Regions from separate parts of the Homo sapiens genome. Here region 2 is reported to be linked to region 1. The links are microRNA targets in miRTarBase. Many come from high-throughput screens and were not tested one by one. Region 1 holds a microRNA gene; the other region holds the end of a gene's coding sequence. Distances are from middle to middle.
Evidence for each region. Region 1 holds the annotated microRNA hsa-miR-7976 (UGCCCUGAGACUUUUGCUC, at 1,189-1,207, shown strand). A microRNA usually pairs through its seed, bases 2 to 8, with sites in the 3' UTR of a target mRNA and lowers its output. Matches are read on the target gene's strand: a 7mer-m8 pairs with bases 2 to 8, a 7mer-A1 pairs with bases 2 to 7 and ends in A, and an 8mer does both.

Region 1 (4,067 bases):
GCCAGCAGCCCCATAACCCCAGTGTGGTTGCTGGATCAAGTAGCAGCAGCAGGGGCACCACCTGGGAGCCTGTGGGAAACACAGACTGTTCAGCCCTACCCCTGCCCTTGGGAGCAGCATCTGCATGTTAACAACACCAGGGTATTTCCCACATCAGGTCTGAGAAGATAGCTCTAGAACAAGCCTGGTGCTCTTGACCCACAGGTGGAGAAGCCGAGGCCTGGAGAGGGGCACCTGGCAAGTTGTTGACTGGGGGCCTGGGCTCTGGAGACAGACAGCCTGGATTGCTGGCCTGGCAAGTGGCTGCCCCTCTGAGCTCCACGTGCACAATGCGGATAACATAAGTACCTCCCTCCCAGGGTTGGAGGCCAGGGCTCAGAGGTTAGGCACAGAGGTTACTACGTTGTTGGCAGGGGAGTGGGGGCAGGCAGAGCAGCTGACACCTCCTCTGTGTTTCCTCAGACCCCACAGCAATGGGGGCTTCACAAGAGGTCCATGGACCTGGGAACCAATTCCTTTCCCTCCTTGCCCTTCAGTCTCTTCTCTGGTAATCCCAGCAACTTGGGAGGCTGAGGTGGGAGAATTGCTTGAACCCGGGAGGTGGAGGTTGCAGTGAGCCGACATCGCGCCACTGCACTCCAGCCTGGACGACAGAGCAAGACTCTGTCTCAAAAAAAAAAAAAAAAAAAGAAAAGCAGCAACCACCTTTGTACATGTGTCACTTTTGTAGATGTTTACATCCCTGGTTTTGTTTGATCCTTACGGCACCCTTATTAGGCAGATGTTGTCCCCATGATACTTGGAGGGGGAGTGACTCACCCCAGGTCACACAGCAAGCACGTGGCAGAACCAGCAGTGCAGCCCCGTCTTGTTGACTCCAAAATCTGTGTTAGCTGGAGGTTTTTCACTGGTGAATTAGAGAAGTCAGACTCAAACTGGCCTAGGCAGAAAAGGGGATTTGTTGGGTTTTATAACTGAAAAGTCCAAGCGGGTAGGACTGGCTTTGGATGTGGCTGAATCCAGGGGCTCCAGTGAGCTCATCAAGATCTGTCTCCATCCGTGTCTCAGCTCTCCACTCCTCCGCGTCGGCTTTACTCTGAGGCGGGTACCTGAGCGTGAGGTCAAGGTGGTACAGCCCTGACTTACTGAGCTCAGCAGAGAGTGTTTCCTCAATTGTCAATGAGAATCTGCCCTGAGACTTTTGCTCTAATAATTTATTCTAATAATAATTTAGATCAAAAGCCTCAGGGCAGATTTTCATTGGCCAGGGTGATGGAACATCCTGACTAGCCAGACTTAGATCACAGGTGCATTCCCTGGGTTGTGAAGGGTTAGTCACGCATCCCTAAACTTCCAGAGAGTCTAGAGTCTGGGAGCTGAGTTTCCACCTCAGGAAAACGGTGCTCTTACCAACTGGCAGCAGCCTGGATGCTGGGCAGGCAAAACCAGAAGCCCACCCCGCCCTCCATACCCTGGACTCTGCCTGACTCCCCCACTCTCCTACTCCCTGCCCCTGTTCCTCCCCACTGGCCTCTGTGCCTCAAGGGGCCTCTCAGCTTGCTGGTGACTGCTGGGTGCCTGGCCTGCACCCTGGCCCTGCCCGTCTTGGGGCTGCGTGACATTCCATTCTGGGTCAGAGTTGGTGCTGGGCTGCTAGGACCAGGCGTTCACTCTGCCTGGCTTGGCTTTATAATAGGGGTGGGGATAGCTGGTCATGGTGGCCCACACCTGTAATCTCAGCACTTTGGGAGGCTCAGGCAGGTGGATCACTTGAGGTCCAGAGTTCTAGACCAGCCTGGCCAACATGGCAAAACCCTGTCTCTACTAAAAATACAAAAATTAGCCAGGTGTGGTGGTGCACACTTGTGATCCTAGCTACTTGGGAGGCTGAGATGGGAAGACTCCTTGAACCCAGAAGGCTGAACTTGGGAAGCAGAGGTTGCAGTGAGCTGAGATTGCACCACTGCACTCTAGCCTGGGTGACAGAGTGAGACTTTGTCTGAAAAATATATGAATAAATAAATAATGGGGTGGGGAGGAGAGGGCTGTAGAATCTCCCTCCTTCATCAGGTCACTGATACTCTCAACTCAAAGTTACAAGTTATTATCTCATGCCACCAGAAGTCATGCAGGAGGCGCGCTGCACACCCGCTTCCAGCTGTAAGCTCCTGCATGCTCAGCGTGGTGGCCCAGTCCTCCAGGGGTGCAGGAAGACAGTTCTGGACACCCCACACAGGCACAGATCCCCCCATGAGGCATCACATGCCTTTGCCTCAACCAACTGCTGGCCAGGAGCAGAAGGGCCACCCTTCTTGACTTCGACCAGAGCCACTCTGCAGGGCATGCTAGCTGTAGGGGAAGACAGTTAGTTACTCATTTGGCAGACTGTCCTATGCATTGCAGACATTTGGCAGCCCTGGACCCTGCACACAAAAAAATCCACAGTCCTCCATTCCCTAGCAGTTGCCATGTCAAACTAGAGCAGTGCTCCACACCGGCTCCACCCCAGAGACCATTGGCTGAAATTAATGGAGACTCAACTTCTGGTCCTGGGGAGGGGCCCCTGCTTGAACACTAGGTTTTATGGAGGGATCCTGAACAAAATAGTAGCTTGTTAGTGAGGAAGAAGGGGACAGTGTCTGGTGGTCAGTGTTGGCCTCAGTTGCAAAACATCCAGTGACTCAGGCCAGAAACTGCACCATCAGCCGTCTTTGGCCTCTTCTCTCATTCCCTGTGTTTGATCTGTCAGTGGGTCTTGTTGGCCAAGCCTCCCAAAGGTCTCCCAAGTCCCTCTGTTCCACCTGCACTGCTGCCACTAGTGCAAGCCTCTGTCCTCTCATGCATGGACTGTTGCAGGAGCTCCTCATGGCCTCCCTGTCTCTGTTCCTCCTCCACTTCAGTCCCTTTTCACTGGCATCCTGTCCCCATGGAAACCAGACCTCTCACTCCTTGTAACACCCTTCTGGTTGCACTTAGAGTGAAGTCGAGTTGCATGTGGGACCTGGCCCTGCCAACCTTTCTGGTATCAGCTACCCTGGCCTGTTTTTTGCCCTTGGGACAGGCCAAACCTGTTTCTACCTCTGGACTTGTGCATCTGGATCTTAGGTGATTCTCCCTGGAATGTTCTTTATCTCGATCTTTCCAAGGCTGGCTCCTGCTTATTTATTGAGATCTCGGCTCAAAATGTCACCTTGTTTGACTACCCAGTCCAAGCAGTACCTTTATATTCATTGGGATTTGGGCTAGCTGTTGAAACAAAGGCTAGGATAATAAAATAGATTATTTTTATCTATGCAGGCAGCCTCTGTGCAAGCTGTCCAGTACATGCACGGAGGCCTCATTGTGCTGGGGACCCAGACACCTTCTTTCTCATTGCTCTGTTACCCTCGTACAGGGTTTCTGCCTCGTGGTCTGAGGAGGCTGCTCTTGCTCCCACTGTCGTATCTATATTCCAGCCACCGGGAAGGGAGGAGGGCATGATCTGAAATTAGCAGACCTCACTCTGCTCGTGTCATATGTTTATAACAAAAAAAAAGTTCTTTTTAAAGACAAGTCAGGGTTTTTATCTTTGTTGGGCCTCTGTTTTAGAGTTTATGTCTTCACACCATGGGATTAGATCAAATGACAGGCTGAAGGACTGTCAGCCTGTCTCAGCTCGTGTCCAGTTGGATAAAACTCAGCCACATGGCCACACCCAGTTGCAGGGAAGCTGGGAAAGGTCCCCATTGTGCTGGGAAGCGATGTGTAAGCTAAACTCCATTGGTTCCATCACTAAAGGGAAGGGTAGATGTTGGGGGAACCCAGCAGTCTCTACTGTGTTTCTTGTCATTCTGCTCCACCTCTCTGTTTTCTTCACTTAGCATTTATCTCTAGAAGTTTGCTTCTTTTTTTTTTTTTTTTTTTTTTTTTTTTTTTTTAGACAGGGTCTCACTCTGTGGCCCAGCCTGGAGTGCAGTGGTGTGATCATAGCTTGCTGCTGCCTGCTGCCTGGAGCTCCTGGGCTCAAGTGATCCTTCCACCTCGGCCCCACCGAGTAGCTAAGACTACAGGTATGCACCACCATACCT
Region 2 (4,067 bases), 78 Mb from region 1:
GCTCAGGCTGTCAGCAACACAGGCCTAAACAAAGCTTTGCAAGTAAGCCAGCAGCCATCAGTGTCATGCCTGCCTTTCTGCTTCCTAGGGCCTTTAGCCCCACAAGACCCTGTGATTATTATCACCCACCATTCCCAGGGGTAACGCTGCCTTATCTCTTTTGCTAGGAGGTCCAAACCGGCCTGTCCACATCTGCTAGGGGAATCTTTCCCCACTAGCTGTACACTCAACAGAATGGCCCTACACGGTCAGCAGGACCCCTGGATAGGGGAGCATCTCCTTGCCTTCCCCATGTTAAACGGGTTTGCTGACATGGCGAATACATTGGGGTGTCTGGACAGTGAGATGACTCTGGGTAGAATAATTCCAAACCATCAAGTAAGGCACAGCAAACTCTCTTGGGTAGCCAGAAGCCTAGCAGGTTTCTATCTGGAAGAAATAAAAGGACTTGTTGATGTGGTGAAAGCTCACCCTTGCCCAGGCTAACGGTTTTGAAATCACATCTGTTTGTATAGGTGATCAAGGAAGCATCTATCTTCACTGAGCCATCTTAGTCCCCCTCAGGCTTAGCTCAGCTATCACCTCTACCAGAAAGCCTGTCCTGACCCACTTCTGCCCAGGTTGGGAAGCTCCCGTGGGGCCTCGTCTAGGAGGAAGGTTCTCATCACTTGTCTGGATTCCGGGGTTGGACCGCCTGGAGGCCCAACACCTCAAGGCCCTGAAGCGGTACCCGGGCAAACACCGGGCCCCAACACTGCAGTCACTCACCACTGCAAGTGGAAGGTGTGGCCGCAGTGGATGGCGGCCACGTCGCGGGAGTGATCGAAGAAGTCGGAGCAGATAGTGCACAGAGCACGGATAGGCATGATGGCTGGACTCAAGGGGCCCAGGCAGCCAAAGAAACTGCTACAGGTCCGGCTTCGTAGACGCGCCCCCGCGCCTCCGCTTGCTTCAAATTTGGCTCCGCAGCACGACTTCCTGGAGCGGGCCGGAAGTGACAACACAAAACTTTGGGCGGAGCGTGAATACTTCGCCTGGATTGGACAAATTCTCGGATGGGCGGAACTATGGGCGGGGCTTAGCGGCCCCGAGGCCGTAGAGAATCCTGGGCGGAGCGCGGTCGCTCTCAGGCGTCCTCTGGGGAGACTCGACCTGCCACTTGAGAGCGCAGCATTATATCAAGGCGGGGAGCAGCGAGGCTGCCAGCTGGACCCTTTTCCAGGGCAAGGCAGCGCATTGTGGTCCCATGCCAGAGCTGGCGCGAGGCAGGCTGGGCCAAGGCAGAGAAAACCGCAGCCGCAAGGGAATAGAACAATGGTCCCGATGGGTCCCTTGGGCTCTGGACAGTGATGGACCATGCGCTATGGTCTGTAGTTCCCATAGACCACAATACCCTACCCTCTCAGTCCTCAGTTCCGGGCGATTCTAGAAAGATGGACACATAGGCCCCAGTCCCTCAGGTCACCCCAGGCCAACCTTGGCTTCATCCAAGTAAGATATGACTATCCTTGAGTTTGGAGACACTAGGGCCAGTACCCTGACTTTAGCTCTTAGCTCTCAGGAGGATCAGTTATGCTTGAGACTGTAGTAGGGTTGGAATTTTGGAGGCCCAGATGCTTCAAAGACTAGAGACTAACAAATCCTTTTTATTATTCCCACATCAGAGAAGTTATCTTTGAGGAGGTTATCTTTGAGGTCCTCCCAGAGAGCAGCATCCCTGGTGAGTTCACCCAGGCCCACCTGGGCTGGAGTAAGTCAACTTTTGGGTTTTTAGGCTTAGTATCTGTGGCAGTGTTACTCCCTCTACCCAGAAGAAACCCTGTGCATAGTCCCATAATATAAAGCTGATCTGCTCCAGCTGAAATAGACCCAGAGTGAGATTTCATTTGGGGCATAGGTGGAAAGCACAGGTGTTCACAGAAAGAAGGAATCAACACAGAGCAGCATAGAATCTTTGTGCATTGCTCACCCTACACCCTCTCCCTAGCTCAGGGAAGCTATCTTTGGCTATGAGCAGGGTCTGTCCTTGCGGTGGCTGGCCCAGGTAGATTCCAGCTCTATGCCTAAATCAAGAGTAAGGCTCCTCGGTCAACAGGAGTCAAAAACAGCAGCCCTTACTTGAGCTCTCAGCCCAGGGAGTATTCCTTGGTCCAAATGCAGCCCAAGACCCACTACTCACATGGATTTCTAGAGTTCAGAGGACCCCCACCACCACCACCATTGAGGAATACACTGTGGTGAGGATGATCTTCACCCTCAGCCCAAGAAATCCACAGGGCACTGTTCACTACTACTCCCAGCCACTACTTGTGAACCTGCTCCCAGCCTCTCCCTTCCCCACTGCCTTCCAGGGGCTCCTCCCCAGTAGGACAGAGGAAGCAAAGGCGAGAGGGTGGCCAGAGGCTTTGCAGGGTGATGTTTATTTGCCAGGTTCAGTAGGCACACAGTTAACCCACCGACCTTCACACACCAGAGCAGACCCACAGGCATGCAGGGAGAAGGGCAGGACCACCACGGAGTGCCGAGCAAGGGCGAGGACCAATGTGGCTGCCTATCCAGGCTGTGGTAGGGTCTGACAAAGGGCACCTGTCAGGAGCCTCCCTCAGGAAACTGGGGAGTTTAACCCTACTTCCTCATCCCAGAAAAAGCAACTCAATGTGGCTCTGAGGCACCTGGGCCTCTGATAGAAGTGAGCTGTAGAAAGAGGGAGTTCCTCTTCATTTCATTGTTGAACTGAGCAGAAAATCTGCCCCTGTAAAGGGCAAACCTCCAAATCAGATTATGAGTTATTGCCATGCAGCAAGCCCCCTAGGGTGGAGAGGACTTGTGGGCTGAGATTGTAGGAGGTGGGCATCTAGGAAGAGCAAGGAGGTATCAGCCCTCCCTGTTTGGCCCAGGGTAAGGACCCAGTAAGGCTGGGACACTGGGTGCTGGGCTTGTACTCTGCCCTGCCAGGTCTCATTGCCACGTCCTAATTGTTCCTCCTTTCCCTTAGAGGCTCATGAGGTTCAGGGTACAGGGCAGCCCACTGCAGGACTCGGAAAGGCAGGAAATAACACAAATAACAGGGTCTTAGGAAGGACAAAAATGGAAGCTTCTGCCCTCCTACTCATTCTCTCCACTCCTGAGGACCTCCACAGCTAGTGAGCAGTATCCCTAGCCATGTGCCAAGTCTGGACTTAAACATACTGCCCTACCTTTCTGCATCCTCTATACCAGCCTGTATCTGCTCCTAGAGCAGCCCACACACCACAGGCACACACCTTCATGTGCAGGAGCCTAAGACCGCTGACAGGGCCTCGCTGGAGGACCAGCTCTCAGGGCAAGGCCGCCCAAGTTTAGGGCCTGGGAGAGTGTGGGACCTGCAGGGCCTGCCTAGGGGAATGGTGAGGCAAGAAGGGAAGGGGAAGGAGAGCAGGAGCCCCCTGAGTATCCCTAGAGCAGCATCCCACAAGGAACAGAAACTGGTGAAGCTAGCAAAAGACAGAAAAGCCACAAGGAATCCATGCAGGGGCTGGGGCCGGCCCTGCCACTGGCCTGCCCACCACTCACACACATACACACAGGAGACGAGACTGCTCTCCCGTGACCCCTAGTTATGCCCCACTGGGATGTGGGGGCATGGGGGAGCGAGGGCATCATGCCAGTGACTCTATGTACAGTGAGAAGCCCCTCATCCACTCTCCCACCCTCCTGCCCATCCCCTGCCCCCCCTCACCAGGCTGCCTACTCAGCTGGCCTCCTCCCTTTGAGACTCCTGGGCATAACCAGCAGCCTCTTCCCCTTTACTAGAGGGTGGAGCCTGGCCTGTGGCGCCCTCTGGGGCTGTGCTGTCCGGCTGGGCCATAGCCGGCTCAGGGGTGGCAGCTGCCTTGGTGGCCAGCATGGCACTGCTTTGGGTGGTGGGCACAGTGCTCTCTTCTGTGGCTGGTGTGGCTCTCCCATCAGTGGCTGGAGTAGCGCTCCTGTCAGTGGCTGGGGTGACACTCCCATCAGTGGCTGGAGTGATGCTTCCATCGGTGGCTGGGGTGACACTGCCATCAGTGGCTGGGGTGGCACTTCCATCT

Region 2: the mRNA of CAMKV is a reported target of hsa-miR-7976. Seed matches in the 3' UTR shown: 7mer-A1 at 2,945-2,951.

The regions. Positions count from the first base shown.
Region 1 is chr3:127,584,298-127,588,364 of GRCh38, reverse strand. It overlaps MIR7976 (microRNA 7976), which reads left to right and starts at 1,189; the gene lies at 1,189-1,254. The region is part of intron 1 of TPRA1 (transmembrane protein adipocyte associated 1); the gene reads left to right.
Region 2 is chr3:49,855,588-49,859,654 of GRCh38, forward strand. It overlaps CAMKV (CaM kinase like vesicle associated), which reads right to left. Exons shown (of 11, transcript NM_024046.5): 11 at 2,402-4,067. The coding sequence ends at 3,731. It overlaps TRAIP (TRAF interacting protein), which reads right to left and starts at 977. Exons shown (of 15, transcript NM_005879.3): 1 at 769-977. The coding sequence starts at 866.